Homo sapiens: one gene and its partners. The protein of the gene in region 2 interacts with the protein of the main gene of each other region in a pairwise test. Each region holds a gene or a part of one and is shown on either strand. Other genes may lie near its edges.

Region 1 (8,436 bases), on a different chromosome or scaffold from region 2:
GGTGATTACCCTTATCTTGTCTCTCCTGCTAAATCATTAAGGTTTGCGGAGTTCCTTCAGACCCTCAATAAACTTGTTTGTGGAGGCCTGGGAGTTCCTTCAGACCCCCATAAAACTTGTTTAATCCTAAACAGGTCCTAATCGATTCCTTCGTTATCTTGTCATGCTTCAAGGCCCAGGAAAGGCCTGGGCAAAACTCTCAGTGGGCTTCTGTTACATTCCAGCCTTTGTATAAGGGCACTGGCTCTATCAGCTTTTAATATTTTTTTTTCTTTTTTGAGACGGAGTCTTGCTCTGTCGCCCAGGCTGGAGTGCAATGGCACAATCTCGGCTCACCACAACCTCTGCCTCCCAGGTTCCAGTGACTCCTCTGCCCCAGCCTCCCGAGCAGCTGGGACCACAGGCACGCACCACCACACCCGGCTAATTTTTGTATTTTTGGTACAGATGGGGTTTCACCATATTGGCCAGTCTGGTCTCCAACTCCTGACCTTGTGATCCACCTGCCTCGGCCTCCTAAAGTGCTGGGATTACAGGCGTGAGCCACCGTGCCCGGCTTCAGCTTTTAATATTTAACTTAACCAGACGGGTGTGGTGGCTCACGCTTGTAATCCTAGTACTTTGGGAGGCCAAGGCAGGCGGATCACCTGAGGCTGGGAGTTCAAGACCAGCCTGGCCAACATGGTGAAATTCTGTCTCTACTAAAAATACAAAATGAGCTGAGCTTGGTGACAGGTGCCTGTAATCCCAGCTACTTGGGTATTCTTTCCACATGCTTCTCCTGCTCTTCGTATCTCACCTAAGCTCTGCTTTTGGGGGGCAGATACGGCCCACGGAGAGGGAGGAGCAAGGTTAATGATTTTTAAGAAAATCCAGTAGTTCCCTGAGTCTGGACTTGGTGCCCTAGTAGAGGCAAACAGATGCTGTCACCAGGGAAGCCCTGATGAAATGACTGGGAAAGTTATTTTTCTTAACGTTTTTCTTTATTCCCTTTATGTATAGACAAAGTTGCTTAAGAAGAAGCCAGACTGCCCAGCATGGTCCAGATCTTGACCCCTGACCAGATCCAAGGGGGAAATTAGACCCCCGAACCAGCGTATATACTGGAACTGACAATCCCTAATTGCCTTTAGATCATTAACATATCACTAGAGTGTTAAGTTACCCCCTCCCCCACACGACACCAAACAAGAAAATCTCCACCATTTTGTGTGCCTGGGTTGTATTGAGAGGTGACAGCATGCTGGCAGTCCTTGCAGCCCTCACTCGCTCTTGGCGCCTCCTCTGCCTGGGCTCCCACTTTGGCGGCACTTGAGGAGCTCTTCAGCCCACCGCTGCACTGTGGGAGCCCCTTTCTGGGCTGGCCAAGGCCGGAGCTGGCTCCCTCAGCTTGCAGGGAGGTGTGGAGGGAGAGGGGCGAGCGGGAACCGGGGCTGCGCGCCGCGCTTGTGGGCCAGCTGGAGTTCCGGGTGGGCGTGGGCTTGGTGGGCCCCGCACTCGGAGTGGCCGGCCGGCCCCGCTGCCCCGGGCAGTGAGCGGCTTAGCACCTGGGCCAGCAGCTGCTGTGCTCAATTTCTCGCCGGGCCTTAGCTGCCTCCCCGCGGGGCAGAGCTCAGGACCTGCAGCCCACCATGCCTGAGCCTCCCCACGACCCCTTGGGCTCCTGTGCTGCGCGAGCGTCCCTGACGAGCACCGCCCCCTGCTCCACGGCGCCCAGTCCCATCACCACCCAAGGGCTGAGGAGTGCAGGTGCGTGGCATGGCACAGGACTGGCAGGCAGCTCCACCTGCGGCCCGGTGCAGGATCCACTGCGTGAAGCCAGTGGGGTTCCTGAGTCTGGTGGGGACTTGCAGAACCTTTATGTTTAGCTAAGGGATTGTAAATGCACCAATCAGCACCCTGTGTCTAGCTCAGGGTTTGTGAATGCACCAATCGACACTCTATATCTAGCTACTCTGGTGGGGACTTGGAGAAACTTTATGTCTAGCGAAGGGATTGTAAATACACCAATCGGCACTCTGTATCTAGCTCAAGGTTTGTAAACACACCAATCAGCACCCTGTGTCTAGCTCGGGGTTTGTGAATGCACCAATCGACACTCTGTATCTAGCTACTCTGGTGGGGATGTGGAGAATCTTTGTGTCTACACTCTGTATCTAGCTAATCTAGTGGGGACTGGAGAACTTTTGTGTCTAGCTCAGGGATTGTAAATGCACCAATCAGTGCCCTGTCAAAACAGACCACTCGGCTCTCTGTAAAATGGACCAATCAGGAGGATGTGGGTGGGGCCAGATAAGAGAATAAAAGCAGGCTGCCTGAGCCAGCAGTGGCAACCTGCGCTGGTCCCCTTCCACACTATGGACGCTTTGTTATTTTCCTCTTTGCAATAAATCTTAATACTGCTCACTCTTTGGGTCCACACTGCCTTTATGAGCTGTAACACTCACCGCGAAGGTCTGCAGCTTCCCTCCTGAGCCAGCGAGACCACGAACCCACCAGAAAGAAGAAACTCTGAACACATCCGAACATCAGAAGGAAGAAACTCCGGACATGCCGCCTTTAAGAACTGTAACACTCACTGCAAGCGTCCGCGGCTTCATTCTTGAAGTCAGTGAGACCAAGAACCCACCAATTCCGGACACAGTATGAAGACATGTGTTTATAAACAGAGGTGGCACAACTGGAGTTCCACCCTATAGGCTAACACTCCTTTCTCTCCCCGTACTCAGTTCTTTTAAAGCCAATGCTTTCCACTGTTTTGGGGGAGGGGGCTTTAGAGAAGGAGCTCTCTTACTCTCCACTCCTAGCAAGAAATAAAACCTGCTTGCCTTTTTTCCCATTATCTTTGTAACCAATATGAACTAGGGAAAGAACTCCATTTACAGTGACAATGACAGGACTACAGAACTGGACAGCTGTCACACCATGAAGGCTGATGTCACAGAGCCAGGCCAAGGTGATGAGAACTGACCTGTAGAGTTATGCAGAAACACTACATTAGTAAACTAATAGGCATTAAATCATTAGGATTCCAAGGCCCCTGTCTTTGCCCTTGTTGTTGGGAGAAGACACTGAAAGAGAGAATTCTGGCTCTCTACAGCAAAGTTCAATTAAAAAGTATAGAGTAGGGAGGGGATGGGGAGAGAGTCAGCATGGAAAAATAACCAGCCTTCGGGAAACAAAGCCCTTCACTTTAAAGCTCTCCCTTCTTTCAAATCTGCCTGCCCGCCAGGCGGCTCTGTTCCCCTCAGTCAGCTCTGGCAGCAAGAAGTCTGTGAACTGTGTCTTTTCCCCACCCCCGCACAGCTTTTCAGATAAGTTAAACTCACCAAGGTAAATACAGTTTTGTCCCAAAGACTTCCTACTTCTGCCCTCCACAAAATCACTCAATACACCTTCAGACACCAGTGCAGAAGTGGTGATTCTGGGGAGAAGAGTGAAGACAGGCCAGGGAAGACGTGGTTAGGATTCACTCACCAATCCACGGGCCTGATCTGCACAAAGGAATTTTCCTAGAGGAACCGCAGGAAATTCTTGCTCACACTCAGGGCAGGAAAGTGAAAGATAAACTATGGGCCAATGGCATTTCTCCACGTAGGGCCTGGTGAGTCCCGCCCTCTGAATGAATCAGCCGGGCCGTGTAGCTGTGCTGTTCACAGGAGGAGCCGTGGGAACTAGAGGCATTCCCACTCAATCTCCCTTTTCTCTTGAGTCTCAGGATCTTGTTATCATGCCACTTCTTCTGACATAGTTTCAGATTAACCCAGCCAAGTATTAAAAATTAGAAAAGGTGCCCTTTTTCGAAATTCTTCCAATGTGCTCCTCTTGCTCCTGATCTCACAGCTGAGTTCTGCTTCTGGGTGACAGATATGGCCCAAAGAGAAGGAAGAACAAAGTTAATGATTTTTAGAGAATTGCAGTAGATTTCTGGTCTGGACTTAAAAATCTTATAGGACCTATGAACAGAAAAGGAGCTGCAGGTAGGAGAGATGTCATATTATTAAGACTCCGAAACCCAGAGAGGACAGGATGCTAGAAATTTATCTGGAGAGGGCCGGGCGCGGTGGCTCACGCCTGTAATGCCAGCACTTTGGGAGGCTGAGGCGGGCGGATCACAACGTCAGGAGATCGAGACCATCCTGGCTAACACGGTGAAAACCCATCTCTAATAAAATAAAATAAAATAAAATAAAATAAAAAATTAGCCGGGCATGGTGGCGGGTGCCTGTGGTCCCAGCTATTCCGGAGGCTGAGGCAGCAAAATGGCGTGAACCCGGGAGGCGGAGCTTGCAGTGAGCAGAGATCGCGCCACTGCACTCCAGCCTGGGCGACAGAGTGAGACTCCGTCTCAAAAAAAAAAAAAAAAAAAAAAAAAAAAAGAAGTTTATCTGGAGAGCGATAAAGAAATACCACATTATTTCTTTCAACTATTCACTTTCAAAGAACTCTCCAACTTCCCGCTGTTGTCTTTTCCAAAGTATCTATTGCATCCCTGAGCAGGGCCAGGCCTTCCTCTCTCTTCTCTTCTGGTTACTATGCAAAACTGGTCCAAAAGGCTGAACTGTGGTCCATGTACCATAGCCTCCCTTCTAAGCTTTCCCTTACTGGAACATCTCAGGAAGTCCACACTGGAACTAGGATCATTGGTAGAGAGGAGTATTTAGTTTGAAAATGAAAATGCCTCAGGAGAAGGCAATGGGGAGCACTGCAGTGGGCAGCCTGTTATCACTTAATTCCATCATCAGTAACCTCATACCCCCTCCACACTGTACCCCCGCAGCTTTCTGTTTCATGAAATCAGGTAGGGGGCTTTTGCATTTTGTTCTTTATTGTCTCAGATTTACTAGAATATGGTGTATATAAGGAGTAATATTTAAATAGATATGAAGATATATAGCTATTAATCTAATTTTAATTGAATATCTTGATGTCACATTTCTGTTCTATTCTTGCTGTAAAGATAACTGCTGTGTCACCTAGTTTAATTCAAATATTCTTCTGGCATTAGTAATAATTATGTGGCAGTAATAATTATAGTAATAATTATAATAATTAGTATTATTAATAATTACAATTATTAATAGTTACAATTATAATTAATATTACTAATTGTTATTTAGTAATAATTATGTGGCATTAGTAATAATTATGTAATGATTACATTTGCAGTGGCTCACACCTGTAATCCTCGCACTTCGGGAGACCAAGGCGGGTGGATCACTTGAGGTCAGGAATTTGAGACCAGCCTGACCAACATGGTGAAACCTCATCTCTACGAAAAATACAAAAATTAGCCAGGTGTAATGGCAGATGCCTGTAATCCCAGCTACTCAGGAGGGTGAGGAAGGAGAATTGCGTGAACCCGGGAGGTGGAGGTTGAAGTGAGCCGAGATCATGCCACTGCACTCCAGCCTGGGCAATAGAGTGAGACTCTGTCTCAAAAAAAAAAAAAAAAAAAAAAAAAAAAAAAAAAAAAAAAAGTAATTATGTAAATTTTTAAACAAATTTTAAACGATTTTTTAAAATATCCTCTCTGTTTTCTTCCTAAGTATTATTCAGACTCTAACCATATTTACTCTTATTTTGCTCTTTTTCTTGAAGAGAAAAATGTTAAATATCCATGGACCCAAAGGTAGAGATATTTCATTTGATTCCTTTTCAAGCAGGAAAGCAGGATATATAAGGTTTACAGGCTGGGCGCGGTGGCTCACGCCTGTAATCCCAGCACTTTGGGAGGCCAAGGTGGGTGGATCATGAGGTCAGGAGATTGAGACCATCCTGGCTAACAAGGTGAAACCCCGTCTCTACTAAAAATACAAAAAATTAGCCAGGCGCGGTGGCGGGCGCCTGTAGTCCCAGCTACTCGGGAGGCTGAGGCAGGAGAATGGCGTGAACCCGGGAAGCGGAGCTTGCAGTGAGCCGAGATCGCACCACTGCAGTCCGCAGTCCGGCCTGGGCGACAGAGCGAGACTCCGTCTCAAAAAAAAAAAAAAAAAAAAGGGTTTACAGAGAAAACACAGAGCTCCAACAATAATATATTTTTTCTACAATTTAGAACATAGGTTAGAATATGGAGCCTGCCAACATGCTCTACTCTGGTGATAAACTGTGTGTGGTGCATTCAGTTTTTCTATTGGCCCACGTTTTCTGGTATCTTGTCAGGACCTAATATTACTACTGTTTTCTCTCAGCTGCAATTAATACTTCATGAGATAAATCAGACCAGGATGAAAGTTCACTTCAGATGTTCAAAGCCAGACGAGAATAAAAGGATGGCTATGAGATCTATGGAAGTGCTGAGAAGGGAAGAAATAATGGACAGAGAACAGGTCTCTGGATAAATGAGTTCATTCACTTTGTCCATTGTGGTTGACACTCGGACTCCACTCTGTGCACTCCAGAAAAAACACATTCACTCACTGAGCGCTCACTCCCCTACAAATGTCAACAAGATATTCTATTCAAACATGGAATATACCTAAAATTACATCTCTTGCTTATTTATCTTCAAGAAGAAATAAGAAAATTTCACGCCTGTCTTAGTCAAGGTTCATCATAGCAATAGAACCACTAAACTATGAATTTATTTGGAAAGAAACTTGAGAAATGTCTCAGGTGATTCTGGAGACTGGCAAATCCAAAGTCTGCAAGGTAGGCCAAGAGGCTCTGGATCCAAGAAGGAGTCAACGTTATAGCTCACGCCTGAGGTTTGCCTGCTGGTAATATTCCCTCTTCTCGGGGAGAAGTCAGTTTTTTCTTCTATTCTGGCTTTCAGCTGATTGAATAAGGTCCTCATAGATATAAGTGAGTAGGAAAGAATTTATAGCCAGGATTAGCTTATTATTCTGTGAGCAACAAATAATACCAAAATATCTATTATTGAAATAATAAACATTGATTTCTCAGTCATCCTACATGTGTATCATTGATTAAAGTATGAAGATGGCCATGCTCCATAGTGTCAGTCAGGGATCCATGTTATGGAAGCTCCATGAGTTGCCTTTTTTTTTCTTTTTTTTTGGGTGTGTGTGTGTATGTGTTGTGTGGTGTTTGTTTGTTTGTTTTTTGTAGAGACAGGGTCTTACTATGTCACCCAGGCTGCAGTGCTATGGTGCAATGACGCAATCTTGGCTCAATGCAACCTCCACCTCCTGGGCTCAAGCCATCCTCCCATCTCAGTTTCCTGAGTAGCTGGGACTACAGGTGCACATCACCACACCCAGCTATTTTTTTTTTTTTAATTTTTCTTAGAGATGGGATTTCACCATGTTGCCCAGGCTGGTGTTGAAGTCCTGGACTCAAGTGATCCACCCACCTGGGCCTCCCAGAGTGCTGGGATTACAGGCATGAGACACCACAGGCCTCCATCAGTTTTTGATGGCATTATCTGGCACATGCAGTTAAACAAGAATACAATAGACAACAGGGTACAGAAGTATGTGCATGACGTATAACATGTTTCAGTGCTGCTTTTTAATTGATTGTGTAAAAATGACCAAACTTTTCTTAGAGAAGCAGGGAAAAGTGGAAAAATTATGAAGGCATGAGAGTAACTCAATGAATGATTATAATTAAACAGCATCATCTGTTAACTTCCATGTTCTCACCTGCCTCAGTGGCTGGGTAACATGACACTGACACAGTTTTACCTCTATTACTCTCTGGAATCCATCCTCATCTGGTCTGTCTGGATTAGGAGCAGGAAGTGATAATTAATTGATGGACTCTTAAGATTTAATGACATTTTGAGAACATTTTTTTCAATGGGCTCACACTAAAGATCCTTTTATTTATAAAAATAATTTTTTTACCATTCACAATGTCAGCTGCTAATACTCATCTTGTCAGCCCAAATTTGTAGAGCTTTATAACTGAGTATCTTCCTCGTCAGACTGCATTTCAAGAAGCTAGGTCCCAAGTCTCTGGATCTTTATTTTCCTGGCTTAGGTCTTAAATATAAGATAAATTCGACTAATAATTATAGGACTGCATTGGAATTCTAAGTATTCAGGCAAGCTGTATAACTGTAATTCACATTCTTTTTATTCAAATATTCTTGCTTGAGTAAACCACAGTAAGAATAAGGAAGTAGTGACTGAGTGCCTTGCCAGTACAGCAGATGCTAGAACATAATGTAGCATTACTTTCCCCAGGGTTTATTGTTATGTAAGTTCTTGTTCAGCTTCCTTTGTTTTCTTTCACTTCTGAGAATTTAACTTTCGTTTCTCACTCAGCTCCTGTGGGGAAACTCATTTGTGGAGACCAGCCCTCTGGCTTGGTGAGTGAATCTGGTTTACACCGGCTCCTGCCCTGCCTTCACTCTTCTCCCCTGATTCAAGACTCCTCTGCTTTGGACTGAAGGTGAGTGGAGCAATCTGTGGGAGCATAGAATGGGAGGCTTTGAGAAGAATAGATTGATTGTGTCTGGGTGAGTTT
Region 2 (5,883 bases):
AAACTCTGTGCAGCACCCTAGGGTTGGGGCTGAGATGGGCCTGGAAGCTTTCTGGGCTCCTTCTTGCCTGGGACTCCCTCACTGACCCATTCTCTCAACTGGAGCCGTTGTGAAAGGGAGGTGCCTTTGGTTACAGAATACAGAATTTATGGAGTTACAGTATGCTAGAAAAGCAACAGACAAAGCCAGGTGCGGTGGCTCACGCCTGTAATCCCTGCACTTTGGAAGGCTGAGGCAAATCACCTGAGGTTGGGAGTTTGAGACCAGCCTGACCAACATGGAGAAACCTCGTCTCTACTACAAATACAAAAAATTAGCTGGGCGTGGTGGTGCATGCCTGTAATCCCAGCTACTTGGAAGGCTGACGCAGGAGAATCACTTGAACCCGGGAGGTGGAGGTTGAGGTGAGCCGAGATTGCGCCATTGCACTCCAGCCTGGGCATCTAGGGTGAAAGTCTCAAAAAAAAAAAAAAAGCAAAGCAAAGCAACAGACAATACGATCACTCTCTGCTGAGGACCGAGGCATCTCACCCCACCCTGGGGTGACCCTCTACACCGGGATGCAGCTGGGGACGGAGGCGGAGGGAAGGGAGACAGCAGAGGGTAGAGGCTGACTGTCCGAAACCTCCCATGACCCGTGACCCGTGACCCAAGAAGTGCGGCTCCGGCGTCGCGGGGATTCACTCACAAGCAGCCCAGCTGATCCACAAACTCCGCGTCGGGGGTTTTCTCGAGGTTTGGGGTTGGAGGGTATCGGTGGCGCCAAGGTCAACACGAAGACAGACAGAGGTCACAACGCCTATTTATTCCCCACACGTCACGCCCTGCACCCCGGGTGGGCTTGGCACACACCTCACCGCCATGAGCGGCTGCAGGGCCGCGGCGGCCCCCGTTCCTACTGCTACCTACGATACACGGTACTGCGCCTACCTCACAGACGGCCAGGAGCCAGGGAGCCCCAGGATGCTCCGACTGACAACCCTGCTGCTGGGACCACGGCGCCGTGGGCTCGTCTGCCACCCCCAGGCCTCAGGAACCCAGACAGGCTGCCTGCTGTCCGGCTCTCCGGCTGCTTTCCTGGTGGCTGTTTTAGGGCCAAGGTGGGTGGCACCTGAGGTGTCCCGTGGCCTCCACCCAGCACAGGAGGGGTAAGCTTCCCTGGGGGGCCCCGGGCCCATGAAACATCCAGGACAGAAGGACAGCAGGATGGGACACAGACAGAAACGGCCCAGCTGCCTTCCCTGTGCCCGGGGCTAAGGCGGCCGGGACAGAAGGTCATGATGTCGCCCCTGGCTCTCAGTCGCGAGGACCAGAAAATGAGGGTGGGAGGAGGGGAAACATGTCTGTCAACATGCCCAACTGGAGAAAAGTCACAGAAACTGGTCCTATGCACCCAGGACGGCTCCTGAGCCGCGGAGGCGTGGGGTGACCGCAGCCGTCTCTTAGGTGTCTGCCACTAAAGAGTTCCTCATGCAAACACACATGGCCCGCGGTGCCCAGGCCGCAGCTGGCAGTGAGCTCTTCCGAGCAGGCACAGGGCCGGGGTGGCCGGGAGGTCGACTCGGAAAGAGGCTTCTCACAGACGGGAGAGTTCCTGCAGACAGACCACGGGATGGGGGGCGGGGGCTGTAAAAGGCTTTGGAAGCCACACGATCCGCCACACGGCTGAACGTGAAACCTGCCACTTCTCTGAGAGCGGCCCGGGAGCACCCCAGGATTCTAGAAAACACTCAAGTGACCGAGCTTTCTGGGGGCTGGAAGGGAGGTCGCTGCTGGTCTGTGCTCAGCTTGCTGGCTCTCGTTTCAAGAAGGGTCTGGGGGCTGTAAGGGAGTTACAAAAAGGGAGTGGAGGAGGGCAGAGATAAAAGGGGAAAATCCATCTTGACATGCAGGTCCGAGGTCTCTCTCTTCCCCTCTCTCAGGCAGTCCAACAGGAGGAAGTGGCAGACAACCAGAAGGCTTCCTTCGGGTCGGCCAGGGAAGGACGCGGTCACACCGGGAGCAGCTGGAAGGGGACAGACATGAAGGCTGTCAGAGCGCAGGTGGGGACCAAGGCTGCACCACACACTCCAGGCAGCAGGAGAGGCCCAGAGTGGACAGCCAGGGGCCACAGCGGCTATTTCAACGAACGTCAGAGCCACAGCTGCACCAGAAGCGTTCCACACACTCGGGGCCACGTGTGGCTGGTGGCGCAGAGAACATCGCCATGACCTAGAAGGGTCTACAGTATGGTGGTACTTTGTGTATGAGGTTACGGTGGTAAAAAATCCACCTCAACTATTAAAAAAAGAAAAGGAAAAATAAATAAAAGCTTATTTAAAAAAAAAAGGGAAGACTGGAAGAAAAGGCGGCCAAAATATTAATGTTGGTGGCTCTGGGTGAGAAGATTAAGGTTGGGCTGAATGCACGGCTCACACTTTGGGAGGCCGAGGCGGGAGGATCGCTTGAGCCCAGGAGGTTGAGGCTGCAGTGAGACGTGACTGCACCACTGCCCTCCAGCCGGGGGGACAGAGCAGGACGGTCTCAAAAAAAAAAAAAAAAGATTAAGATTGTTCTTGCTGCTTTTTAACATTTTTGTATTTTAAATTTGTCTACAGTAATTATGGTTTAAAAATGAAAGAGAGTGTATATGAGGAGGGGACAACGACAAAATGAAGAGGCCACATGGGAGCAGAATGGAAACACCTCTGGGGAGGCCCGGAGCCTCCCGCCCCCAGGGAGCCGGCGTCTGCTGGAGACAGACAGGACTGAACTCAGGGGAGCCTCCCACCCCTGGGAAGCCGGTGTCTGCTGGAGACGGACAGGACTGAACTCAGGGGCCCCTGGGGAAGGAAACCAAGCCAGCCACGGGCCCCTGGAACCCATGGGGGACACTGAGTGTATTTTTAAACAACTGTAAGTGCAACACCTGCTCACAGTGAGAAAAGGACAAAAAATCCCTCACAAAATGCAGGCAGAACGCTCGGGCGCAGTCAAAGGCAGGTACCCGGCTTGTCCTTTCCACCACTCGATGACCTCGCCCCCACCCCCGAGGTGGCAGCCCCGACACTGCAGAAACAAAGAGCTTCTGCAGGCGGCCTTAGGCAGGGGGGACCCCAGACACCAGCCCTTCCAGGGAGCTGTGGCTCTCCCCTAATCTCCACCCAGCGCCGATCCACAGATGGGAAAGGAGTGGGGAGCAGGACTTGGTGGCCACCTGGAAAGGGGCCCAATGCCCAGAGATGCCCCCACCTGCCTGGGCGGTTCAGGGTGATCTTCTGAGCTGGATGCACCCAGGACTCGCTGTCCAGTGTCCAGACAGGCTCCACAGCCCCCGGGCGTCACTCCTGCTGGCTGCCCTCACTGCCAGGCACTCACGTGGTGTCACTCCTGCTGGCCACCCCCCAGCCCCCGGCCCCATGCACTCACGCAGCGTCACTCCTGCTGGTCGTCGTTGCTGGCGCTGGGCGTCCGACTCCGGATCTGGCTCCTGAGCTGCTCTATCAACTCTGGGTTCTGCTGCTGCATCTGCTGGGCAAACTGCTGGCCCCTGCGGGGAAGGGCACATGGGGCTCAGCCAGGGCCAGGAGGCTGCCTGCTGCCTCCGTCCATCCCCAGCTGACCCCTCGGGCCCTCCACCCCAAAGACAGGCCTGACCCCTCGCTGGAGGACGCTGGGCCCTTCGGAGCAGGGGACGCAGCACTTTCGCTCTCCTCCTTCCCTTCCGCCTGCGAGCCCTGCCCGCCGCCCACGTCCTCCGTCCTCTTGGAAGCAGTTCCACTCACGCCTGGATGAGGCTGGCCAGGTCGTTCTGCGAGGGGCTGGTGCCGGGAGTTCCCAAGGGGTTGTTGCCACCCGAAATCATGCCGGACATGCTGCAGGAGAGAGCGCGTGACTCGCAGCCGGGACAGCCTGACCGCCACCCCCACTGCAGGCCCTCGCAGTGGCCCGGGAGAGAATCCCTCTCAGCCCTTCACCTTCCCCTGCAGGAGAGGATTCTCTCTCACCACCTGGTGGGCCTCCAGGGCCCAAACCCACCCTGTGACTTTCACCTGCTTTCCCAGAACACCCCTCTTTCTTTGGCCTAAAGAGCGTAGTTCTCAGCCAGGGGGTGATCCTGCCCCCAGAGGACCCCTGCAATGGCAGCGGACATTTGCAACAGCCATGATTGGGTTACGCCAAGACAGGGGCAGGGGGTGCTCCTGGCATGGAGTGGATGGAGGCTAGAGACAGTGCTCAGCACCCTGCAGTGCCCAGGACGGCCCTGCTCCAGAAACTGGTCCAGCTCAAATGGCCACGGTGCTGTGGCTGGGAAACCATGCTTTAAGATTTGACCGTGGGCCAGCCGCGGTGGCTCACACCTGTCATCCCTGCACTTTGGGAGGCTGAGGCGGGTGGATCACCTGAGGTCAGGAGTTCAAGACCAGCCTGGCCAACATGGTGAAACCCCATCTCTACTAAAAATGCAAAAATCAGCCGGGCATGGTGGTGGATGCCTGTAATTCCAGCTACTTGGGAAGACCCACTTGATCCCGGGAGGCAGAGGTTGCAGTGAGCCAAGATTCTGCCACTGCACTCCAGCCTGGGTGACAGAGCAAGATTCTGTCTCAAAAAAAAAAAAAGGAGAAAGAAAAAAAGATTTCACCATGAAAACAGGTGAGCAGCTCCCCAGTGCGCACAGCGCTTACTGGGGAGTGACCCTATGAGCCAGCGAGTGCACTCAGAAGTTTATATCCAAGAGAAACGAAAACAGGATTCACACAGACGATTGCACACCCGTGCTCAAGCAGCACCGTTCACAACAGACAAAAGGTAGAAACAGCCCAAATGTCCATGGATAGATGTGTGGATCAGCACAGCGTGGTCCCTCCACACTGGAATATTACTCAGCCATGAAAAGGAGCGAGGCCCTGACCCAGGCCCCAGCACACATGCACCTTGAGGACGTCACGCTCAGTGAGAGACGCCAGACACCAAAGTTCACGCAGTGTGTGATCCCATTTCTACGAAATGTCCAGGACAGGCCCATCCACAGAGACAGGAAGGGGATGCGTGGTTGTCAGGGGATAGGAGAGGGGTTGGGGAGTGACAGCTGAGGGGGAAGGGGCTTCTTTCGGAGGTGATGAAGATGGGTTGGTGCTCAATGGTGGTGACAGTTGCATGACAGTGTGATGGTGGTGACAGTTGCATGACAGTGTGATAGTGGTGACAGTTGCATGACAGTGTGAAAGTCCTTAATGCCATTAAGTTGCACACTTTAAAGTGGTTAGTTTTATGTTAAGTGAATTTACCCACAATAAAAGGAAATTTAACCACAACAAGACCCGAAGAAACCCGGTTGTCACTTACAGCTGCTGAATCTGGGGATTGTTCATTAGGTTCGAAGCCTGAAGAACAGAACAAATTTGTCAGGAAGACAAAGCTCCCAGCGCATCATTCTCTTTCATCAGACACTTTCCATCTTAACCAGCCTTGGTTCTGGACTCCAGCACGCCAACCAACAGTAAGAGCCGGGCATTCGGTCTTTCATACCCTTTTCCCTACATTTTCGCCCCCCCACCCACGAGCTGTGACCTCCACATTGTGACTTAAATCCTGTTTTGGGTTCCTGCTTCAGGAGCGATCTCGCAGCGCCACAGCGCTCTCTCACTGGCTGCTGCGGTTTTGCTGTGTGGAGGCGTTTTGGTTCTTTATTTTAGCTGCTGTCTGCTTTAGCATATTTCATTTAGCATATTTGGTTCCAGTTTTGCTCTATCAATAAATAGCACTGTGGCTGGGCGCGGTGGTTCACGCCTGGAATCCCAGCACTTTAGGAGGCCGAGGCAGGCAGATCGCTTGAGGTCAGGAGTTCGAGACCAGCCTAACCAACATGGTGAAACCCCGTCTCTACTAAAAATATGAAAT
Region 3 (7,843 bases), on a different chromosome or scaffold from region 2:
GCACCCAGCCTGATTTTTGCTTTCTTATAGTGCAAAAGTCACCCTGTGGGTATTCACAATTTGTCCCTAACCACTAGAGGTTTTCATGAACGTATCCTTTGTAGCATTCCAGAAGGTCAACTTCTTGACAGAAGCTGTCTCCCAACATCAGTCAGTACTCAAAAATGTGTCAGTTACCAGAGAAGGGGTTATACCCTGATACTTCAATCAATTACTCTGGCATTGTAGAAACTAATAAACAGCTCCAAATATTCTATGATATCTTAAATCAAAACAATTAAGGAAGAGGCAAGGGAAACAAATAGTGCCTGCTGCGATGCTTTCTCATTTCCCTTTGGGAAGATAGGGTTGCTTGTTTTCCAGGAAGTCATCCCTTAGGAATTTTTTTTTTTTTTTTGACAGAGTCTTGCTTTGTCACCCAGGCTGGAGTGCAGTGGTGCCATCTCAGCTCACTGTAACCTCCACCTCCCAGGCTCAAGTTGATTCTCATGCTTCAGCCTCCCAAGTAGCTGGGATTACAGTCGTATGCTACCACACCCAGCTAATTTTTGTATTTTTATTTTTATTTACTTATTATTTTGAGATGGAGTCTTGCTCTGTTGCCCAGGGTGGAGTGCAGTGGCAGCATCTCTGCTCACTGTAACCTCTGCCTCCTGGGTTCAAGCGATTCTCGTGCCTCAGCCTCCCGAATAGCTGGGACTACAAGTGCGTGCTACCATGCCTGGCTAATTTTTTTGTATTTTTATTAGAGAGGCGTTTCATGTTGGCCAGGCTGGTCTCAAACTCCTGACCTCAGGTGATCCACCTTCCTTGGTCTCCCAAAGTGCTGGGATTGCAAGCGTGAGCCACTGCGCCTAGCCTAATTTTTGTATTTTTAGTGGGGGGTGGTTTTGCGATGTTGGTCAGGCTAGTCTCGAACTACTGACCTCAGGTGATCCACCTGCCTCGTTCTCCTAGTGCTGGGATTATAGGCGTAAGCCACTGCACCCAGCCAGCAATTTTTAATTCTCTATTTTTTGCTCTGGAGGTCCTAAGTTTTAGATTCAGTGACACATTGCTGTGCCATTCATGCTGCTGGGTACTGTCGATTAGCAGTCAGCATCCATTCCCATCTCCTTCTAGTGTCCCTTCCTATGCTGCAGAATCTGGAGAGTTAAAATGTCATGGCCAGGATTTGGAAATGAAGTGGAGGCCACCCGCCTGCTGCTTGCTGCTGAAGTGTGGCAGCAAAGGTATGAGGTGTGTCTGCAGCAGGGTTGCAGGGTCCAGTCACTAGCCATGTAGGGGTCGAGAGCCTGTTTCAGGGGCAGCAATAGTGATGGTGACTTCCAATCCCTTAATCACAGCCACAACAGTGTGTTGTTGAGCTTAACAGGTACAGTGGTGATGTCCTGATTTCTTACCTTCCTGATTGCAGCAAAAATGGGTAGCTACCCTGTTGGGACAGTTTGGAGTCATCCCTGCAGAGTCATTCTCTAGCCTCCCTGATAATTTGTATTACTTAATTCCTTATATGAATTCTTTTCTGTTTAAACTAGCCAGGTTGCTTTTTGCTTAAACTAGCCAGGTTGGTTTTAACTGAACCTTGAAAAATATACTGAAGTTCAGAGCATCTAACACTAAAGGTTGTGCTGGTCTTGGTGGCGAGAGTAAGTCCCACAGCAGACCACAACAGATCTAGAGATCATAAGGCCTCTAACATTTCCTATGCCTAGTTGTCAGGGGCATGTCCTATGCAGGCCACCCCAAAAAGCCCTTTTACGTTAGCAGTCTGGAATGTTACTAGGTCATCCAGTACAGGTTGCGTGTGCCATAGTCATAAAATTTGGGACCTGAAACTTGGAGCCTGGATGCAGGAGATGTGGAATGAATACTAGGGTGAGTTCCAGGTACAGTCATAATTAAGGTGAAGGCATCAGTGACATGACTTCCCAGGTAAGAAGATACAAAAGGCTGAGCCCAGAGAAGCTTGGTGCTCCTCACTTCTGATGCTTTCTCTGCTGCTATGATGATCAAAAGTCCTCAGCACCTGAGCTGGCCTTTGGGAACCAGGTGGCAAGGACAGCCACACTAACAGGAAAGATGTAACTGCTGCTGTCCCTCTCTGGGTATCCAGCTTTACAAGAAATAGGTAAACTACTTTTCTTTGATAGATAGTATAGTGGTGTTTGGCTGACATTTTACCTTCTAAAATTATTAAGTTATCTTTAGAGTGAACTGCAATTACATTTTTGACAAGCTCTAAAATATATCCTAAACAAACCCCTCCATCTCTACCACCTCTACCCTATCCCCAGTTATCAGCATCTATCAGCAGGGGAGAGATCATATCTTATCTCTTCCCTGCTTAAGATCCTTCGAAGGTGTCCCTTCACATTCATAAGAAAAAATCCAAACTCCTTAAGGTGGCCTACAAATTCCTACATAATCTGGCCTTTGCTTCTCTATCCATTCATATTTCCTGTCGCTTGGACTGGCTACATAATTTGTGGGGCCCAATGCAAAATGAAAATGCAGAGCTCCTTGTTCAAAAACTACTAAGAATTTTAAGAGGGCAATGGCAGAGCATTAAACCAGGCATCAGCCCTTTCCTTTTTTTTAATTTTTAAAATATTTATTTAGATTTTCTTTTTGTTAGTAATTAAATCTTTCTTCTTCTTCTTCTTCTCCTCCTCCTCCTTCTCCTTCCTCTCCTTCCTCTTCCTCTTCTTCTTCTTCCCTCTTCCCTCTCTCCTCCTCCTCGTCCTCCTCCTCCTTGAAACAGTGCAGTGGCACAATCTCAGCTCACTGCAACCTCCACTTTCCATGTTCAAGTGATTCTCATGCCTCAGCCTCCCGAGTAGCTGGGATTACAGGTATGTGTCACCATGCCCAGCTAATTTTTGTATTTTTAGTAGACACTGGGTTTTGCCATGTTGGCCAGGCTGGTCTCAAGTGATCCGCCCGCCTCAGCCTCCCAAAGTGCTGGGATTACAGGTGTAAGCCACCGCACCTGGCTCTTTTTTTGTTTTGTTTTGTTAAGTATAAAACCTCACCTGGAAGCACCAGCCCTTTCTGAGTGTGCGGGCCTGTGCCACTGCGTGGGTTGCACGTCCATTAAGCTGGTCTACCTGCCATCCACTTCCTCAACCCAATGGCATTCTCCTGTTTCTTAGATATGTACCAACCGGTTTTCTGTTTTATCTTAGCATGGCTCACTACTCCTCATTAGGGTCTCTCAGCGAAGGGGGTAGCCTTTTTTTTTTTTTTTTTTTTTTTTGAGACAGAGTCTTGCTCTGCTGCCCAGGCTGGAGTGCAGTGGCCAGATCTCCACTCACTGCAATCTCTTTGGTTCAAGCATTCTCCTGCCTCAGCCTCCCAAGTAGCTGGGATTACTGGCCCACGCCCGGCTAATTTTTGTATTTTTAGTAGAGATGGGGTTTCACCATGTTGGCCAGGCTGGTCTCGGACTCCTGACCTCAGGTGATCCACCCGCCACCACTCCAGCCTGGGCAACAGAGTCTGAGACTCCGTCTCAAAAAAAAAAAAAAAAAAAAAAAAAAAGTCATACTGGCATAGAGTGAACCCCTAATCCAATATGACTGGTATCCTTATAAAAATACTTTTTTTTTGGAGACGGAGTCTCTCTCTGTCGCCCCAGGCTGGAGTGCAGTGGCGCGATCTCGACTCACTGCAACCAAAAGGAGACATTTTGACATGGAGACATATACAGGGAATATGCCCTGTGAACATGAAGATGGCCATATGCAAGCCCAGGAGAGAAGCCTGGAAGAGACCGTTTCCTCACAGCGCTCAGAAGGAAAGAACCCTGCCAACATCTTGCTTTCAGATGCCCCCAGGATTGTCAGACAATAAGATCTGTTATTGACGCCACCGGGTTGGTGATACTTAGGTACAGCAGCCCTAGCAAACGAATACACCCCCATGAGAACTAAGCTCCCTGAGAGCGGTAAGCTGCCTTGTCTTGCTCACAGCTGACAAGAACACGCCTGTACGGTCACTTAGCACCTAGTACTGCCATTTAACCGTTTCACTAGTATGTATGAACCGGAGAGCCTGTCAAGGGAAGAGCTGAATCTTTTATCTTTTGTAACGACTACCCAGTGAAAGAAACCGCGGGTATGCAATAAAAACCTGTTGAATCGATTAAACCATTTCCCTTATTTCCAGATTTTTGCGGAAAGCGCCAGTAGGTGAAATATGTGCGGACTGATGAGTCAAAGCTCTTATTCCCTGGACTGCATTAATACCCACGACGTGCTTTTCGCTCTCCAGACAAAGAGACCGGTACTTGGCAGGTCCCTCAAGTGGGACTCAAAAGACCGAACCGAGCTGCAGCCTTTCGCTAGCACTGGTCCTCGCCCCTTTTGGCATCTTGGTACTTGTAGTTTTGTCCACTCTATCTTTACCCGAAAAGCCAGCGCTGAGACCACAACTCCCATCACCCTGCGAGCACCAGCGCCTTCAGAGCGCATCCTCCGAGGGGCACCAGCGCCATTGACCACCCTGCTGGCCGAAGGGCCCGCCTTCCCGAGGCCAGGCGCTCCCGCGATTGGCCAGCCGCCCCGCCTCTCATCGGAGGGCGCCAGGTGAATGAAAGGGGGGCGTGTCGGTGCGCGGTGCTCCGTGGCTGCGCTGCTGGAACCCGCTGGAAGGTGAGCGCGAAGAAGCGGGTTGGCGCTGCCGCTTTCGTTGGTTTGGGGAGGATTCCTAGCACCCGGGAGGCTGGCTGGAGATTGGGGTTAGCGGGCAGGGTTGCCCCCACTCAGTCATCCTCCTTCGGACCGCTTGGCCCTGGCAACTCCTGGGACCTCCGCCCCGCGAGCCCTTCTAGCGTGGGGAGGGGCAGGCGCGGCCGTGGGGCCCCAGCTTCCCTGTCATTGGGTGTCCTCCGCGTCGTCCAGCCGGGGGTCGCGGCGCCGACTACTTCCACGGTGAATGGTGCCCAGGCGTGGGGGGCTCGGCCACACTGGAGAAGTGCCAGCGGCAGCGATGGCCACTTTGTCCGCGGGAGGCCATGGGAGGGGCTAGGCCTTGGGGTCCCACCCTCGGGGGCCGTGCCCTGTAGCTGGTTCTGGTGGCCTCTCTGCAGGTCGTCTGATGCTGGACGGGGGAGGGTCTGTCTTGCGAGCAGTTTAGATGCAGTTGACCCTGAAATTCTTCGTATGGAAATGGAAACTTCTCCAGTGTCCTTCTCCTCCGATCCATGCCTAAAAGAAAGGAGTGACTTCCCCAACCTGTCGCATCGTGTCCTGGAGGGTTTGAGGAGGCCGGTTAGCATAGTGGTTAAGGATGTCAACCCGGGAGTCAGTCGGATCTCTGTTCTATTACTAACTTGGTGATGTTATCTGCATCTTTGAATCTCAGTTCCTCCTCTGAAAAAGAGGATGTAGTTAGAGTATCTGTCGTACTGGATTATTGTGAGGTGAAAACTAATGTGCTTGTAAAAGCCAGGCATGGTGGCGCGCACCTGTAGTCCCTGCTACTCGGGAAGCTAAGGTTGGGAGGATCTCTTGAGCCCAGGAGTTCCAGGCTGCATTGAGGTAGGATCGTGCACTCCAACCTGGGCAACCGAGCAAGACCGTGCCTTTTAAAAATTTTAATTTAAAAAGTAAAATGAATATGCTTGTACTTTGTACAGTGTTTTATAAGGAATAGTGCTTAATATTTACTAAAATTGAGGAGCAGGTTTTTGTTATTCTCAGGTTGGTGGGACTGGAGGAGTCTTGTCAGAAAGGGTCGGAGGTGGAATTCAAGGCTGCTTTTGGCCTCTGAACAGAGACAGTTGTGTGATCTGGCTAGGACTCCCTCAAGGGTATATGAGAGTTTGTATTGCAGGTAGTTGTGTTGGCATCTGCTGTCTCCTGGAGGACAGGCACTATACTTGGTTCATTTTTCTATTCCTGGCATCTTCCTTGTGTCAGGCATTGTATGTAGCCGGTAACCGTTGAATTGAGTTGGAACCGTGGGATGGTTGGGAGGTTCCCTGCCAGAGTGCGGATAAATGTGCTTCTGAGAGCAGTCTGCCCTAAGAGCTGCTCTTCTGGGATAAGTGGTGATCCTCAGCACTTCCCGGGGCAGCAGAGCACTTCAGGCAAATGGGGGTGATATAAATAAATATTTACACAATATATACCAAGTACAGGATTGGGGAAAATTTTGAAGAAAATACTATACGGATAGACTTTTGCAACGTCAGGAAGTAGAATAAAAATAATTGCAATAGAATAAAAAATAATTTCAGTAAGAAAGCCAAAAGAAATTGGTTTTAGGTGCTATTTCTGGAAAGGAGGCTTTTCCAGTGAAAGACGGAAGTGCCCTGGGAAGAGCCCCTATAGATCAGACCATACTACAAGTTAAGAAGTGTTGTGCGTACTTACATATTTATCTACCTGGCTTACCAACTCCTTACCCCTCTGCCCTGCCTCCTTTTTTTCTTAGTTAACAAAGAAAAAAGCCAAGGCAGAAGGATCACTTGAGTCCAGGAGTTCAAGACCATTGAGACCAGCCAGGGCAACATAGTGAGACCCCATCTCTACAAAAAAATGTTTTCAGAATTAGCTGAGTGTGGTGCTGCATGCCTGTAGTCACAGCTACTTGGGAGGCTGAGGTAGGAGGATTGCTTGAGCCTGGGAGGTCGAGGCGGCAGTGAACTGTGATCATGGACTGCACTCCAGCCTGGGTAACAAAGTAAGACCCCGTCTCAAAAGAAAAGAAAAGCAATACATGCACATAGTAAAACATTCTATCAGAAAGGTTTAAAATGAAAGGCGAAAGTCCCTCCACACACTTGTTTTTTTTTTTTTTTTTGAGATGGAGTCTCGCACTATCGCCCAGGCTGGAGTGCAGTGGCACAATCTCTGCTCACTGCAGCCTCCGCCTCCACCGCCTCCTGGGTTCAAGTGATTCTCCTGCCTCAGCCTCCCGAGTAGCTGGGATTACAGGTGCCCGCCACCATGCCCAGCTAATTTTTTTGTATTTTTAGTAGAGACGGGGTTTCACTACGTTGGCCAGGCTGGTCTCGAACTCCTGACCCCAGGTGATCTACCCACCTTGGCCTCCCAAAGTGCTGGGATTACAAGTGTGAGCCACCACACCCGGCCCCAAGTGGATTTTAAACTTGGTTTATAGTTTATCTACTAAGCAGTTAAGAAATGAATATTCCTTTTTTGCTTAACAAATCTATTTTGTCCAAAGCACTCTGCCAGATACTGTAAGGGATATAAAATTGAATAAGACATGGCTCATGCTTTCAAAGGGCTTGTAGTTCATTGACAGAGAAGGGCCAGGACATAAATAATAAACAGGAGTTAACCAAGGGTAGTGGAATCAGTCAGTTAGGAGTCTCCCAGTTGCATGAAATAGAAAACCCAACTCAGAGGCCAGGTGTGGTGTCTCACACCTGTAACCCCAGCACTTTAGGAGGCTGAGGGGGGCAGATCACTTGAGGCCAGGAGTTCGAGACCAGCCTGGGCAACATGGCAAAACCCTGTCTCTACCAAAAGTACAAAAAAAATTAGCCTGGCGTGGGGGTGGGTACCTGTAGTCCCAGCTACTCGGGAGGCTGAGGTAGGATGATTACTTTAGCCAGGGAGGCGGAGGTCAGAGTGGGCCGAGATCACACCACTGCACTGCAGCCTGGGTGACAGAGTGAGACCCCATCCCCCATCTCAAAAAATAATAATAATAATATTTAAAAAAGAAAACCCAACTCAGACCAGCTAAACCAAAAAGGAACTTAATTGGCTTCTGGCACTGCTTGAGTTGGGGCTCCAATGTTGTCCCCAGGCTCCATCAGCCTGAGCTGGGCTGTCATCTTTGTTAGGCTGACTTCCCTGGTGGT
Region 4 (7,709 bases), on a different chromosome or scaffold from region 2:
GCACCTGTAATCCCAGGTACTTGGGAGGCTGAGGCAGGAGAATCACTTGAACCCAGGAGGTGGAGGCTGCAGTGAGCTGAGATCGCACCACTGCACTCCAGCCTGGACGACAGAGCAAGACTCCATCTCAAAAAAAAAAAAAAACAAAAACCCAAAAAATAAAATGTACTTATGGCAAGGTCAAGACACAGCTAACTACCTGCTAGGCGCTCATTTAATTTCTAGACCTAATGGGTTTAAAAAATATTAAAACAGCCAGATGTGCTGTAGCTTCAGTTCAAAATACACAGTGAGGTCACTCTGATGTGAAGATGACAAGATGAGGAGGGTAGGCAAATGATCTTTAAGGGCCTTTCCAATACTAAATCCTCTGCCTCTTCTAGATGGATGTGCCAGTGGTTTCTGAAGACTACGTGCTGCTTCCATTATAGATGAGGATGTTGGCCCTGTTATTACATGACTAAGGGGAAGCAGTGCCAGTTTCTTTTTTTCTTTTCTTTTTTTTTTTTTTTGAGATGGAGTCTCGCTCTGTCACACAGGCTGGAGTGCAGTGGCACGATCTTGGCTTACTGCAACCTCTGCCTCCCGGGTTCAAGCAATTCTTCCGCCTCAGCCTCCCAAGTAGCTGGGATAACAGGCACGCACCACCACGCCCGGCTAATTTTTTTTTTTTTGTATTTTTTTTTAGTAGAGACGGGGTTTCACCATATTGGCCAGGCTGGTCTCAAACTCCTGACCTTGTGATCCACCCACCTGGACCTCTCAAAGTGCTGGGATGACAGGCGTGAGCCACCACGCCCGGACAAGTAGTGCCAGTTTCAAGAGCCCAGAGAGGAGAAATGAAATGATTGAGCTGGCATCACTAATCAAAGGAACTCAGAAAGGCTACCTAGAGCTGTAAAATTAGGGAAGAGGAATAAACAAAGGGCTTCAGGGAGAAAATGGTAGAAGACTTCAGACAGAGTTGGAGGAAAGGAACTAGGTATCCAGAAAGGAGAAAGAACTCCAGCTGAGGAAAAGGAAACCAGATCTACCCAAGTTCTCAGAACACGAAAGGAATGAGAAAGAACATCTCAGGAAATTAAAGGAAGGAGGAACCAAGAAGAAAACAAATCCATAAAGAAATCAACAAGAAATAGAAAAATCAGTGATACTAGCTGGTATCGAAAAAAGATCCTTACAATTTAAACAGATATTGTCAGTTTATTCAGTCATCAGGACATTACATCCCATATAATAAGATGCACACCAAACATTTGCAGTGTAGAAAAATGTTACTTAATCTTCACAACAACCCTAGAACCGAGGAATATAGAACCCGAGATTACCATGGTGAGGTACAACAAAGCACATAGGTGCAATATAAAAGGCCTAAAATCGCCGGGCATGGTGGCTCACGCCTGTAATCCCAGCACTTTGGGAGGCCGAGGAGGGTGGATCACGAGGTCAGGAGTTCGAGACCAGCCTGACCAACATAGTGAAACCCCCATCTCTACTAAAAATACAAAAATTAGCTGGGCATGGTGGTGCTTGCCTGTGATCCCAGCTACTCGGGAGGCTGAGGCAGGAGAATTGCTTGAACCTGGGAGGCGGAGGTTGCAGTGAGCCGAGATCGCGCCACTGCACTCCAGCCTGGGCGACAGAGTGAGACTCCGTCTCGAAAAAAACAAAAACAACAACAAAAAAAGGCCTAAAATCCAGAACGTGGGAGACAGCCTAGATACAATTTAGAACAGGGATGATCTTTAGATTTGTGAAGGCTATGAAATCAAATGACAAGTCTACTTAAGTAGAGTTTTCTGGTGAGAGGGCTCAGGGCCTTTAATAAGAATTTCAATGTGAGTTTATGAGGAACTGATGTATCACTAAGCTATTAATTTATGTTGAGAAGGGATTAGTACGAATGTGATATTCATTCTTAAAATCAGCTCAAGAGATTCAAATGAAAATGAATGCAAAAACACTTTGAAAAGTTTTATATCTAGGTTATAGTTTTGCATACATCTACATACTATCTGAATATCTTTTGGACATAAGTATTATCTGTCTGATTACACAGTAAACACCTTAAAGACTCCGACTAACACTGCTACTTTGTTGCTCTTTTTATATCGAACTCCCCTCCCCCAGCAATTTTTAGATACATTCTCTCAGGTTCCTGATGTTGCCTGTCAAAGTTATGAATACACCAAAAGGCACTTACTTTTTGGCTTAGATTTTGGTTTTTCAATAAATATTAAAGACACTTTTGTATTCACTAATACTAACCCCTTAAACTGGAGAGTCAGCAAAACAGTCTTTCAAAGAAATCACACATTCTAATAGAACGAAACAAGCTTACACGACACCAATTCTGTAATAAATAACATGCGTAAGTTTCCAACCTGAAACTCCCTAAGTAAAAGTCACTAGAAACAAAAACTGAAACACCGGGTTCCTGACACCCCACTCCCACACTGAAGCTCGAATTACTTGAGGCTGAATTTTAAAACACTATTACTTCTCTGTGACTATGAAAACAAATCTATGAACACATATTTCTTACTTACATTTAACCGACGCTCCCCACCCATCCCTTTAAATTAGGCAGAAAACTGAAAACCACTAAAAGCATTACATTTTGGTGTCTTCTTTTAAAAGTTATTTTAAATTACTGCTATTAAAACCCCCCCTCCAAAAAAAAAAAACCCTCATAACAGAATCAAATGAGCCCTAAGGCGAAGCAGGAGCTACAGTGGGGGAAGGGAATTTTAAAAAGACATCCGTGTTAGTGCAATTAAAGTGCAGTCCTCGAACCGCTAAACATACTGGCGCCTTGTATAATTTTTTTTTCTTCCCAAGGGTAAAAAGCGGTAAGAAAGGCTTAGACAATAAAACCCAGAGGTCAATTTTAAATATGCTGGGACAGTGAGCAACTATCGAGAAGCATCAAGGTCAACGCAACCTAAGGGGCTCCTCTGATCTTTTTGCGGTAGGTATTTCGCCAGACTTCAATGGGCGGGAACCGAGTGGGGGGCGGGAAAGTTGGGGGAAAGAGGGTGGAAAAGAGGAGGGTGGAAGGAAAGAGATGAGTAATGGAAAGAGGAGGGGAGGAAAGAGGAGTGCGAGAGCAGGCCGCGGAGGTGCGGGCAGAGGGGAGGCCGGGCGAGGAGTAGGGGAAGGGAGCCCCGGCCTTGGCCCCGGCCCCGCCCAGCCCCTGGGAGGCCTGCGCGCCTTCCCGCCCCCTTACCAGCTGGAGCAGGAAGCCCCAGAGTAGGGCGGCCCCGGCAGGGGACAGCCGCCGCTGCGGCCCCATCGGACTGGTGGGTGCCGGGTGGGACGGCACGGTGCGGCGCAGCTCACTCGGCGGGGTAGGCTCGGAGTCCCGCCGCTGCGCTGCCTCCGTGGCCGGACCGGACCGGACAGGCGCGGGCGGCCGGGCTACGACTGGACCGCCGCTGCTACAGCGGCCGCCACAGCAGCGCGACTTCCTCTTCCGGCCCCGCCCGTAAGATGCGGAAACCCCCGCGCCGGGCTCGGAGAGTCCCAGCGCTCTCCCGGTATCCAGGCGTCCCGGCGTCCCGGCGCTACGAGGCCACCGGCTGCGGGTCTGAGCCTGTCGCTTTCCGGCTGCCCGACTTTAACTCACACCGAAGCCTGGCGGGAGAACGGATTTCTCAAGGCTCGGAAGTGTCTGAGCGTCTGCTCGGTTCCCCAGTAACTACCCGAGTGTTGCATGCAGCCAGAAATCTAAGGGTCACCCTAATTCATCTGCCTGTCATTTGTTCCTGGCCACTCTGACTCACCACATAACCCAGATCCATCCACTTTCTCCAGAACTGCTGCCACCACTCTATCCAGGCCACCAACTTCCCTCTCCTCCAAACGGGTCTCAGTTTCCCCTCCGGACAGCCCAGTAGCCACATAACAGTCCCAGAGCCATCTTTCAAAACATATAAGTCAGATCATGTCTCTCTCTATCACACTTGGAATAAAATAAAAACTTGGCCGGGTGTGATGGCTCACACCTGTAATACCAGCATTTGGATGGCCGAGGTGGGCGGATCACAAGGTCAAGAAATCGAGACCATCCTGGCCAACATGGTGGAACCAAGTCTGTACTAAAAATACAAAAAATTAGCTGGGCGTGGTGGCACGCACCTGTCGTCCCAGCTACTCGGGAGGCGGAGGCAGTAGAATCGCTTGAACCGGGTAGGCGGAGGTTGCAGTGAGCCGAGATTGTGCCACTGCACTCCAACCTGGGCGACAGAGCGAGACTCGGTCTCCAAAAAAAAAAAAAAAAAAAAATCAAAACTCTACTCTAGCCTGCAAAGGTAAATCTGGCCCCTGCCTTCCTGTCTCCCCATCTTCACTACTTTCCCACACTTTAAGGCGCACGGACCTTTGGCCCTCCCGGCCTTTGCTCTGGTGGGCCGCCCGGACTTTGCTCTGGTAGTCCTCCCTGCTGGAGTGCTCTTCTCTCCAAAGCTCAGAATGCCTGCCTTGTTGACATTCACTTATCAGCTTCAATGTCGCTTCCCCAGACGGGACTTCCTGACATACCCAATCTAAAGTACCTGTCCAGTCACTTTCTTTTCTTTTCCTTTCTCTTTTTTTTTTTTTTTTTTTTTTGAGACGGAGTTTCGCTTTTCTTGCCCAGGCCGGAGTGCGATGGTGCAATCTCGGCACACTGCAACCTCCGCCTCCCAGGTTCAAGCAATTCTCCTGCCTCAGCCTCCCCAGTAGCTGGGATTACAGGCGCGTGCCACCACACCCGGCTAATTTTGTATTTTTAGTAGAGACGGGGTTTCACCATGTTGGTCAGGCTGGTCTCAAACTCTCGACCTCAGGTGATCCACCCGCTTTGGCCTCCCAAAGTGTTGGGATTACAGGCATGAGCCACCGCACCCGGCCTGTCCAGTCACTTTCATATTATTGTTTATTTTAATTATCTGCACAGCACTTTTCATTCTATGTATAGGTTCATTTATTTATGCCACCTCCCACTTCATAGCAAGGGGTGTCTTTGCTTTGTTGACTGCTATACCCTTTACATCTACAGTATTTGGCATATAGTAGGTCCTCAGATATTTGTTGGATGAATATTTAATATCAAATGCTGAATAGGACAGTGTGCCTGCCACCCCACAGCTCATAGTTTAACGAGGGACACAGATGTGTGAGCAAACACAGTTCAGGGTGAGTAGTGACTCTTGTTTGCACAAGATGTTATGGAAGTATCAAAAGGAGTTATAAAAGGGGTGCCAGGAAAAATACCAGCCTGAGCTGAGTCTGGGTGAGTTAATTTTAGCCAGGCAAAGGGTAGAAGAAGGGGGGCACTTCCAGGAAGAGTGAGCCATTAGTGTCAAAGCCAAAGGTGGCATTGAAGGAACTGCAAAACTTGGGCTTGGCTGAAGTTATGAGTGGTGAAAGATGACATGTGAGAAGAGGCCAGAGGCAAAATCATAAATACATTGGGACTGTTTGTGACTTTGGGCTTTGTCCTGCCAGGGGTAGAGAACAAATGAATAATAAATAGGGCAATGACATACACTTTCTGTTTTAGAAAGCTCTCTATGGTGGCTGGCAGGGCAGCAGACGTGTTGAAACAGGTCAAGAAGTGGAAGCCAGGACACCTGTTAGACATCTGTAGTAACAAAATCCAGGGACACTGAGGGCTTGAACTGTGGCAGAAGAAATAGGGAGGAGGAGATGGATCTAAAAGACTTGTAGCAGAATTTGGTAACTTTGAAGACATGGAGATAAAGGGAGAGGTATGATTCCCGGGTTCTTGCCCTCGGCTATTTATTGAGTTGGGTGCCAAAGGCGAAGTAGGTGGGGGTTGATGGGATAAATGGGTCGGGGGGAATACTTTTGGAAGTGGGTTTGAAATGCTTTTAGGATATCCAAGTGCAAATATCTGCTGTCAATGGCTATGTGGGTTGGTCTGAAGCTTAGGGGCACAGTGAGGTAAGAACTGCCTCATCTGCTGCCTATCAATTCTGGACTATTTTCATACTTTCTAGTTGCCCACAGCAAGCCAGGTTCCCCACCCCCTCCTTTTCTTTTTGTTTTGAGATGGAGTTTCACTCCTGTTGCCCAGGCTGGAGTGCAATGGTATGATCTCATCTCACTGCAACCCCCGCCTCCCAGGTTCAAGCGATTCTCCTACCTCAGCCTCCCAAGTAGCTGGAAATACAGGTGCCCACCAACACACCCAGCTAATTTTTGTATTTTTAGTAGAGACGGGGTTTCATCATATTGGCCAGACTGGTCTTGAACTTCTGACCTCAGGTGATCTGCCTGCCTCAGCCTCCCAAAGTACTGGGATTACAGGCGTGAGCCACCGTGCCCAGCCTAGGTTCCCCTTTTATAGAATAGCTGTATGGACTGGATGACTTCATCTCTAAATATTCCCATCTGCCTCTCGTGGCCCTTTGCCTAGTGAATCTCTAAACTGGCTCTTGGGCTATCAGAAGAGCTCTAGTTTTTGTTTGTTTTTATTTTTTGAGACAGGGTCTCACTCTGTGCCCCAGGCTCTGAAGTGCAGTGGCACGATCTCGGCTCACTGCAGCCTCGACCTCCCAGCTCAGGTGATTCTCCCACCTTAGCCTCCTGGGTAGCTGAGACTACAGGCATGCACAACCACGACTGGCTAATTTTGGTATTTTTTTTGTAGAGATGAGGTCTCGCTGTGTTACCAGCTGGTCTTGAACTCCTGCACTCAGGTGATCTGCCTACCTCCCAAAGTGCTGGAACTTGTGAAAGGAAAATAAATCTTGGGACCCCAAAATCACTAAGCCAAAGGGAAAAGTCAAGTAGAGAACTGCTTAGTGGAAACTTGCCTCACATTCTATTCCTTAAAAGCGGATGGATCTGGGTTGTGTGGTGAATCAGGATTGTTAAAGCTCCCCAGATGATTCTAATATGCAGCTAAGGTTGAGAAATGTTGGCTTAGACTGTGATTCTTAAAGTGTGGCTCCTGGATCAGCATATCAGAAATACCTGGGAACTATAAAAAATGCAAATTCTTGGCCGGGTGCGGTGGCTCACGCCTGTAATCCCAGCACTTTGGGAGGCCGAGGCGGGTGGATCACGAGATCAGCAGATCGAGACCATCCTGGCTAACATGGTGAAACCCCGTCTGTACTAAAAAAAAAAAAAAAAAAAAAAAAGAAAGAAATGCAAATTCTTGGACCTCACCCCACAAACTCTGGGAGTAGCGTCCATCAATCTATTCTATTAATAACAAGTTCCCTGTGTGATTCTGATGTATGCTGAAGTTTGAGAACCATTGGCTTAAAGCAATGTCCCTCAACGCTGGCTGCATATTAGAGTGATCTGAGAAATTAAAATGAAACATAAATCCCATGCTCCAACACGAATTAAACTGAAAGGAAAAATAGATGAATTCATAATTACAGTTAAAGATTTCAAGTAAAATCTTTTAATAATTGAAAGAACAAGTAGGCAGAAAATCAGCAGGGATACAGAAGACTTGATCAACACCATTGACCAACTTGACCTAATTGGCATTTATAGAACTCTCCACCCAACAACTACATAATTTTAAGGGTACACAGGACCTTTACCAAATAAACTATTTGGCCATAAAACACATCTTGATAAGTTTAAGAGGTTTTTTTTTCTGTTTTCTTTTTTTTTTTCGAGACGGAGTCTCGCTCTGTCACCCAGGCTGGAGTGCAGTGGCACAATCTTGGCTCACTGCA

Evidence for each region.
Region 1: the proteins of SGTA (region 2) and TRIM5 interact in binary tests that used the Homo sapiens proteins (3 or more experiments, as listed by UniProt).
Region 3: the proteins of SGTA (region 2) and ZBTB8B interact in binary tests that used the Homo sapiens proteins (3 or more experiments, as listed by UniProt).
Region 4: the proteins of SGTA (region 2) and SPPL2A interact in binary tests that used the Homo sapiens proteins (3 or more experiments, as listed by UniProt).

What each region holds. Positions count from the first base shown.
Region 1 is NC_000011.10:5,681,539-5,689,974, forward strand, and holds the start of TRIM5 (tripartite motif-containing protein 5), read right to left. Parts: upstream 3,537-8,436; 5' UTR 3,330-3,536; intron 1-3,329.
Region 2 is NC_000019.10:2,753,929-2,759,811, forward strand, and holds the end of SGTA (small glutamine-rich tetratricopeptide repeat-containing protein alpha), read right to left. Parts: intron 5,367-5,883; coding exon 5,329-5,366; intron 3,855-5,328; coding exon 3,765-3,854; intron 3,530-3,764; coding exon 3,415-3,529; 3' UTR 3,409-3,414; intron 2,006-3,408; 3' UTR 787-2,005; downstream 1-786. UniProt on the Homo sapiens protein: Co-chaperone that binds misfolded and hydrophobic patches-containing client proteins in the cytosol. Mediates their targeting to the endoplasmic reticulum but also regulates their sorting to the proteasome when targeting fails.
Region 3 is NC_000001.11:32,460,451-32,468,293, forward strand, and holds the start of ZBTB8B (zinc finger and BTB domain-containing protein 8B), read left to right. Parts: upstream 1-4,621; 5' UTR 4,622-4,655; intron 4,656-7,843. UniProt on the Homo sapiens protein: May be involved in transcriptional regulation.
Region 4 is NC_000015.10:50,762,239-50,769,947, forward strand, and holds the start of SPPL2A (signal peptide peptidase-like 2A isoform 1 precursor), read right to left. Parts: upstream 3,469-7,709; 5' UTR 3,296-3,468; coding exon 3,230-3,295; intron 1-3,229. UniProt on the Homo sapiens protein: Intramembrane-cleaving aspartic protease (I-CLiP) that cleaves type II membrane signal peptides in the hydrophobic plane of the membrane. Functions in FASLG, ITM2B and TNF processing.